3 separate regions of the Homo sapiens genome follow, and regions 1 and 3 are each linked to region 2. Evidence: fine-mapped expression QTL. A gene starts in region 2. Each other region holds a variant in brackets. All regions are shown on one strand. Distances are from middle to middle. Region 1 overlaps COL5A3 (collagen type V alpha 3 chain). Region 2 holds the start of COL5A3 (collagen type V alpha 3 chain). Region 3 has its middle 9.1 kb from the start of OLFM2.

The links.
Region 1: its variant is fine-mapped to the expression of COL5A3 in iPS cells (HipSci, PIP 0.92).
Region 3: its variant is fine-mapped to the expression of COL5A3 in fibroblasts (GTEx, PIP 0.99).

Annotation. Positions count from the first base shown.
Region 1 is chr19:9,958,967-9,961,718 of GRCh38, forward strand. It overlaps COL5A3 (collagen type V alpha 3 chain), which reads right to left. Exons shown (of 67, transcript NM_015719.4): 66 at 1,685-1,924; 67 at 595-1,591. The coding sequence ends at 1,445. Among named protein-coding and RNA genes, the nearest start is that of OLFM2, 24 kb to the left of the region's middle. The variant T/A (reference allele first, on the strand shown) is at 1,312.
Region 2 is chr19:10,009,362-10,012,113 of GRCh38, forward strand. It overlaps COL5A3 (collagen type V alpha 3 chain), which reads right to left and starts at 1,143. Exons shown (of 67, transcript NM_015719.4): 1 at 937-1,143. The coding sequence starts at 1,024.
Region 3 is chr19:9,944,217-9,946,968 of GRCh38, forward strand. No RefSeq gene overlaps it. Among named protein-coding and RNA genes, the nearest start is that of OLFM2, 9.1 kb to the left of the region's middle. The variant C/T (reference allele first, on the strand shown) is at 1,428.

The DNA.
Region 1 (2,752 bases), 50 kb before region 2:
TTTGAGACAAGCCTGGGCAACAAAGAAAGACACCATCTGTACACAAACACACACACACACACACACACACAAAACAACCCAGCTGGGTGTGATGGTGCATGCCTGTGGTCCCAGGTACTCAGGAGGCTGAAGAAGGAGGATCACTCGAGTCCCAGAGTTGGAGGCTGCAGTGAGCCATGATCATGCCCTTGCACTCCAGACTGGGCGACAGAGTGAGACCCAGTCTCTAAAAACGAGCAAACAAGGGCTGAGCGTGGTGGCTCACATCTGTAATCCCAGCACTTTGGGAGATCAAGGCGGGCGGATCACCTGAAGTCAGGAGTTCAAGACCAGCCTGGCCAACAAGGTGAAATCCCATCTCTACTAAAATTATAAAAATTAGCCGGGTGTGGTGGTGCATATCTGCAACCCCAGCTTCTAGGGAGGCTGAGGCAGGAGAATTGTTTGAACCCGGGAGGCGGAGGTTGCAGTGAGCCAAGCTTGCACCACTGCACTCCAGCCTGGGCGACAGAGCAAGACTGCGTCTCAAGGATAAATAAATAAAACAAACAAACAAACAAAAAAATTTAAAAAAGAAATACACAGAGACAGAAACACAGTTCATCAGTTTATTCTCAGATTTGAGATGCAAATTATGCCCTATGGCCTGGCGGTGGGGGGCCAGGCTTGGGCTGGAATCTCTCATCATATCCCAGCCTTCCCTAAGGAGGAAGCAGATGAAATCTACAACAGGGGGGACTTTCCCTTTTAATACAGACCCAGGTATAAATAGGGCAGCACCATTAGGATCCTGATTCACCCCCCCAACATCTTGGTCCCCAAACCACCTGGCATGGCAAGGTGAGCCTGGGGAGGTGGGGGGCAGGGGGAGGGGATTTGCAGAGCTGGGCTGAGGCAGGAAAAGAAACACAACCCAGTCAAGGGAAGTCCCTCTTCCCTCTGTAGTCCGACCTCAGTCCTTTCACCGTGGAAGTAGAAAGGATCAAAGGGGGTGGGGGTAGGGGTCCCAGCCTGGGATCAGGAGACATCCAGTGCTTAACTCTGGGGAGGGGTAGCACCAAAAGGTGTGAAGGGCAGCGACGGAGGAGTGAGGAGGCAGGCATTGGGGGTGGGGGGGCTTTTGTTCATCAGCTCTGAGTTAGAAGCTCATTGCATGGGGGTTCAAGGGGTGGGGAGGTGAGGCTTGGGTGGGGAGGGAGGGGAGAAAGAGCCAGACTGCAGTATGCCACCTGGAATGGGGTGAGAGGAGGCTGGACCCTTGGGCCAGGGAACCCCAGCCCCCAGCACCCTGGAAAGGAGAAGGAATGACTG[T/A]CCGTGATGAGCGAAGTCACATCCCATTGGCTCCATAGTCACAGGTAACGAAAAATACGGTGGCTTCAAAGCCTCAGCACCAAATGCACCCCATTCTGGGGCTCCCTCATGGTCCCTCCCACCCCGGACACTCTCAGCTGCTGAAGCAGACGGGGCCCAGTTCAAACCCAAACTTTTGGTTCGTCTGGCCAAAGTCAGTGGCCGCCACATCCCACAGGGGCAGAAATCCCGCTCGAGAAGAGCTGAATTCGAAAAGGGTCTTCGTCTGTCCTTTCCGGAGCTGTCCCCAGAGAAGACAGAGACGGTGAGTTACCGGGAAGGTGGCCGACATCTTGCCTCCCCTCTCTAGCTGGCCACTGCCCCACCCTCTTACCCGGCAGCCATCCTGGGGGACGCTGACAGTGGCTGCTGTCGTCTGGTTGAAAGACAGCTCCTCTCCATTGGTGCCAAGGAAGCGGGCGGAGTGGCTGTAGTCACCCGTGGCTTCGTCCAGCCAGGCAGCTGCATTCTGGCAGGAGTAGGTGAAGTTCTGGCGAGCTGTGGCACTCAGCAGTTTCAGGAAGTTCAGCTGCACGACATTCACTGGGGACCCGTCGGCGTCCACGTAGGAGAACTGGTGAGAGGAGGGCAAGGCAGAGGATGAGGGGCTCCATGAGCCTCTTTCTGCAGAAGCCACCCCCTGGAATCTCCATCCACTGGCAGACAAGCCACCCCCCCCATGTCACCATCTCTGAGGAGGTCCCACCAGCCACCTAGAGATCCCTGGCAGAATCCCAAGAGTCACCTGAACATCCACTCTGTCCACCTCTCCATCCAGTAGGCCTCCATGCCCACTCCATCTGACCTCCCAAATTCTGATTGCTTCATCCACCAATCCAGGGTTTTAACACACTCATCCCCACCCAGAAGACACAACTCTGCCTCCACTCTTGTGAGTCGCTGGATCTACAGAGCTCACTGTCCCTGATACCAGATTTCTGCCCTGTCCAATATGGCAGCCACATGTCTAATAGCCACGTGGCTTTTGAGCACTTGAAATGTGGCTGATTTGAAGGAGGGATTTTTTTTTACTTTATTTAATTTTTTTTCCTTTTTTGGGGGGTAAGGGTTGGGATCTTGCTCTTTCGCGCAAGTTGGGGTGCACTGGCACAATCCTGGCTCATTCCAGCCTCCATCTCCTGAGCTCAAGTCATCCTCCCATCTCAGCCTCCCAAGTAGCTGGGACTATAGGTGCACACCACCATGCCTGGCTGGGACTTTTTTTTTTTTTAACTTCATTTAATTTTTTTTTTTTTTTTTGAGACGGAGTCTTGCTCTGTCGCCCAGGCTGGAGTGCAGTGGCATGGTCTCAGCTCACTGCAAGCTCCGCCTCCCGGGTTCACGCCTTTCTCCTGCCTCAGCCTCCCAAGTAACTGGGACTACGGGCGCCTGCCACCACGCC
Region 2 (2,752 bases):
GCCCAGCCAGATGCGCGCAGCTGGGCGTGCGTCAGCGCTGACTCACCCATCCGGCGGCCCCCGGGACCCCTTGGGGGCTCCTGAGAAATTCCTCGGGAAAAACACCCAAGGCTCCAGCAGCTGGGGTGGGGAGGGGGGGAGCAACTTCCACTCCTGCCCCGCCCTGCGCCCCGCCCCGTCTCGCCCCTCACCGCGGCCCTCCCCGAAGCCCTGTCCATGGTGCTGATCGCGGCTCTGGGGACCGCGGGGTGGGGGAGGGGGCAACAGGGAGGGAGGGGAGGAGATGGGCGCTCGCCAATTTGGGGCAGAGGAGGAAAAGGGAGAATGAGGTGAAGCCATTTAAAGAGACGCAAAGGAAACTGTGGGTTCCCGAAGAGCACCCCCCAATACTTGTCCCCACCCACCTTCATCCTCATGGGCAATTATTTGCACCCAAAAATCATAACTACACCCCTCATAGCGGCACTCAGAGACACACAATCACACGCATAACCACTCACACGGTTACCCTCGAAAATCAGCACATAGACAAGAGCACAAGTGCATACTCACCTGTCGCAATACACACCGTCCCAGCACTGCCCTGTCACTCACAGTCACACTATCACCATCAACCTCCACACGCAAGCACATACGCAACTTCACTCCAAATGCACACACATGCTACACACACATACACACATGCACACACCTGCACATTGCATGCATTCCCACGCGCTCGCCAGAAAACGCACTCACACATCCCCACCCCCACCCCGAGCTGTCACACCCACAAATCACCCAGAGTCAGATACTCATGCGCCCACATCACACCGGGGCCGCACGCGGCGCCCACGCCCTTCCCCTCCACGCCCCTCCACCCCCCTCCACCCCTCGCTCTTTTAGAGCCTCTCTGAGTCGTGGACCCTGGGTCCCATCTCTTCCCTCCCGGCTCACCGGCCTGCGTCCCCGGCAGAAGCTGCAGCGCGGCCAGGAGCAGGCAGAGACCGGCCCGCGGCTGGCCCAGGTCCCGGCGGTTCCCCATCCCGGCGGGGCCCACGGGCAAGGCGGGGAACCAGTCGGGGCGGCTGCGGGGCGCGGCGACTTCTCGGGCTCGGTGCAGTCACTCGCGGCGGCCGCTCCTCTCAGGGTCCGCGGGAAACTGCCCGAGACCCCGCCCTGGCCTCGCCCTGCGCTCCAGCGCCTGGCCAGGCGGGGCTTTTTGGAGGGGGAGCGCTGACAGCTGGACTGGGAAGTTGGGAAACTTTGTGCTGAGGGCTGATTGGCTGGCTGGGGTGGAGCCCAGCGCCAGGAGCTGGGTTGTTCCTGCCCCACCCCACTGTGGAGGAGAAGGGTCACTCCCACCCAGCCCTAGAGTTCGAGGGTTCCAGTCTTACCCCAAACCTTTTCCGCCTAGCAGATCCCCTCAAAGGAGACCTTAACCTCATTCAAGACTTCAGCCTCCATCCAGGCCCTAGAATTAGGAGGAGGTGCAGCTTTATACCAAATCTTTTTTATTTTCTATTATTTTTACATTTTATTTTGGAGACAGGGTCTTGATCTGTCACCCAAGCTGGAGTGCAGTGGTGCAATCATAGCTCACTGCAGCCTCCAACTCCTGCGTTCAAGCCATCCACCTGCCTCAGCCTCCTGAGAAGCAGGTACCACAGGCACACACTGCCACACCCAGCTAATTTTAAAATATGTATATTTTGTAGAGACCGGGATCTTGCTATGCTGCCCAGGCCGGTCTTGAACTTCTGGTCTCAAGCGATCCTCCGGCCTTGCCCTCCCAAAGCGCTGGAGTTACAGGCATGAGCCACCGCCCCTGGCACCAAGTCCTTTCTGCCTCACTCAGGCCCCCAACTGGGGTCCCAACCTCACCCCGAACTCTCACTCACCTACCTGCTTTATCCTCAGTCCCTCAGCTGCACAATAGGAGGTACCAGCCTCAGCCCCAAAGCCTTTCCTTCAAGTCCCTAACGGGTCCTCATCCCACCTCAAATCTCACCCCAGATCCCAAAATGGGGTCCCCAGCCTTACTCCAAACCTTCATCTGTCCACTCAAATCCCTAAGTCACGTGTCCTGGTCCCAAATTCTCACCACAGATCCCAAAACACAGTTTTCACTTTCCCCAAATTCTTGATTCCTCAAATAAAGGGTCTCATCTCCATCCCTAACCCTCATCTCCCCCCGCCCCAACTCAGGTCTCCAGTGGATGCCCCGGCCTCAATCCCAAATCCCCACCAAATGAGGGAGTCTGAGCTGGGTGCGGTGGCTCATGCCTGTAATCCCAGCATTTTGAGAGGCTGGGGCGGGCAGATCGCTTGAGTCCAGGAGTTAGAGATCAGCTGGCCAACATGGCGAAACCCCATCTCTACTAAAAATACAAAAATTAGCCAGGCATTGTGACTGGCGCCTGTAGTCCCAGCTACTTGGGAGGCTGAGGTGGGAGGATCACTTGAACACGGGAGGTGGAGGTTGCAGTGAGCTGAGGTTGTGCCACTGCGATCCAGCCTGGACAACAGAGCAAGACTCTGTCTGTCTCAAAAAAAAAGGCCGGCGCGTTGGTGGGAGGTGGTGGGAATCTGTCCCTGTCGCAAAGCAACGCACAGCCACTGGGGAGGAAGGGGTGGATTCTTGCCATTCTTGGGATGAGGCAGAGGCCCCCCTCACCGTGCTGGGACCCCCACCTCCAGCATGAAGAGGCCCCCATGAGGTCAAATAGAGCTTTTATGCAATTGGACAAGCGCAGACACGCAGGATGTGAGG
Region 3 (2,752 bases), 65 kb before region 2:
GCCCAGGTAATTCTTTTTTTTTTTGGGGGGGAGATGGAGTCTTGCTCAGTCGCCCAGGCTGGAGTGCAGTGGCGCGATCTCGGTTCACTGCAAGCTCTGCCTCCTGGGTTCACACCATTCTCCTGCCTCAGCCTCCCGAGTAGCTGGGACTACCGGCACCTGCCACCACGCCCAGCTAATTTTTTTGTATTTTTAGTAGAGACAGGGTTTCACCATGTTAGCCAGGATGGTCTCGATCTCCTGACCTCGTGATCCACCCACCTTGGCCTCCCAAAGTGCTGGGATTACAGGCATGAGCCACTATGCCCAACCTCACCCAGGTAATTCTTTTAATTAATGAGAGCCCATCTCTACTAAAAATAAAAAATTATCTGAGCATGGTGCCTTGTGCCTGTAGTCTCACCTACTCTGGAAGCTGAAGCAGGAGAATTGCTTGAGCCTGAGAGATTGAGGCTTCAGTGAGCTGATTGCACCACTGGACTCCAGCCTGGGCAACAGAGTGAGACCTTGTCTCAAAAAAGAAAGAAAGAAAGGGGCCAGGCACTGTGGTTCACAACTGCAATCCCAGCACTTTGGGAGGCCACGGTGGGTGGATTACTTGAGGTCAGAAGTTTGAGACTAGCCGGGCCAACATGATGAAACCCCGTCTCTACTAAAAATACAAAAATTAGCCTGGCATGGTGGCGCATGCCTGTAATCCCAGCTACTCGGGAGGCTGAGGCAGGAGAATTGCTTGAAACCGAGAGATGGAGGTTGCAGTAAGCTGAGATCACTGCACTCCAGCCTGGGTGACAGAATAAGACGAAAGAGAGAAAGAGAGAGGGAAAGAAAGAAAGAGAGAGAGAGAGAGAGAGAAAGAAAGAAAGAAAGAAAGAAAGAAAGAAAGAAAGAAAGAAAGAAAGAAAGAAGAAAGCAAGAAGGAAGGAAGGAAGGAAAGAAAGCAGCAGAAAAAGAGGAAGGAAGGGAGGAAGGAAAGAAGGAAGGAAGGAAGGGAGGGAGGGAGGGAAGGAAGGAAGGAAGGAAGGAAGGAAAGAGAGAGAGAGAAAGAAAATAGACACACACACAACTCCACAAAACCCACAATTCAGACACACAGCTCACACACAGGTCTCCAGCATAGACATATTTATACATCCGTTTACTCAAACACTCACAATACAATCACATAAAACAGGCAGACAGTTCACATGCCAACACACTCTTGCACAGACACGCAAACAGAAGCATGGAATTTGTACAGAGCACGCTCACAGTGTCTGATCCATAACTCAGACACGGAGTCACGCCCACAAAGGCACAGTAGAGGCAGAGTTCACACACAAACAGACCCGCGGGGACCCACGACACAGCCCTCTGACACGAGGACGCCAGGCCAGGGCAGCGTGGGAATGAGGCTGCAAGGAGGGAGTGAGGTGGAGAGGATGACT[C/T]AGGAGGCCTCTCTGGGGGAGGAGGAGGGAAGGGGGAGGAGGGCAGGCATCCAGCGCATGTGGTTCCTATTAGGGGCCTGGGAATTGAGGCATGAGCTGGCGGGACAAGGAGACCCAGGAACGCTTCCCAGCCTTACCAAAGCAGGAAGGAGCAGGGCCCTGATCTAAGGCCATGCGGCCGGAACTTGGCTCAGAACCACAGCCGTTCTAAGGCAGAGTGGTCTGCCCCAAGCCAGGCCCAGCAGGGGGCTCATTTCAACCCCTGCGATAGTCCTGGAGAAGATTTCTTTTTATTTTTTCTTCTTTCTTTCTTTCTTTTTTTTTTTTTTCTGAGACAGAGTTTCGCTCTTGTTGCCCAGGCTGCAGTGCAATGGCGCGATCTCAGCTCACTGGAACCTCCACCTCCCAGGTTCAAGCGATTCTCCTGCCTCAGCTACCCGAGTAGCTGGGATTACAGGCTCCTGCCACATGCCTGGCTAATTTTTGTATTTTTAGTAGAGACAGGGTTTCACCATGTTGGTCAGGCTGGTCTTCAACTCCTGACCTCAGGTGATACGCCTGCCTCGGCCTCCCAAAGTGCTGGAATTACAGGCATGAGCCACCAAGCTGGGCCCCTTTCTTTCTTTTTTTGAGACAGGGCCTCACTCTGTCACCCAGGCTGGAGTGTGGTAGCACAATCACAGCTCATTGTAGCCTCGACCTCCCCAGGCTCAGGTGATCCTCCTACCTCAGCCTCCCAGGTAGCTGGTACTACAGGTGCACACCGCCACCATGCCCAGCTAATTGTATTTTTTATAGAGATGGGGTTTCACCATGTTGCCCAGGCTGTTCTGGTCTTGAACTCCTGGGCTCAAGTGATCAACTCGCCTTGGTCTCCCAAAGGGTTGGGATTACAGGCATGAGCCACCCGGCCTGGACTTTTTTCTTTTTTTTTTTTTTTTGAGACAGGGTCTTGCTCTGTCGCCCAGGCTGGAGTACAGTGGTGCAATCATGGCTCACTGCAGCCTCGACATCCTGGCCTCAGGCAATCCTCCTTGGAGGGTTTCGTAGGGGAGGAAAGTGACATTCAGAAAGGTGAAGCAACTTGCCTGAGGTCACACAGCAAGGAGGTAGAGGAGCTAGGATTCAAGCCCTTGTCTCTGTGCAGCCTCCTCTCCCCACCTTGTAGTAGAGGCCAGGACCCCTCCATTTAAGCTACAAGCAGAGATCAAGAACTGACACCTGGACCAGGCTGCACTGGATTTGTGGCTCTGAAACAGCCAGCTCTGGCCAGGCGCGGTGGCTCTTGCAAGTAATCCCAGCACTTTGGGAGGCCAAGGCAGATG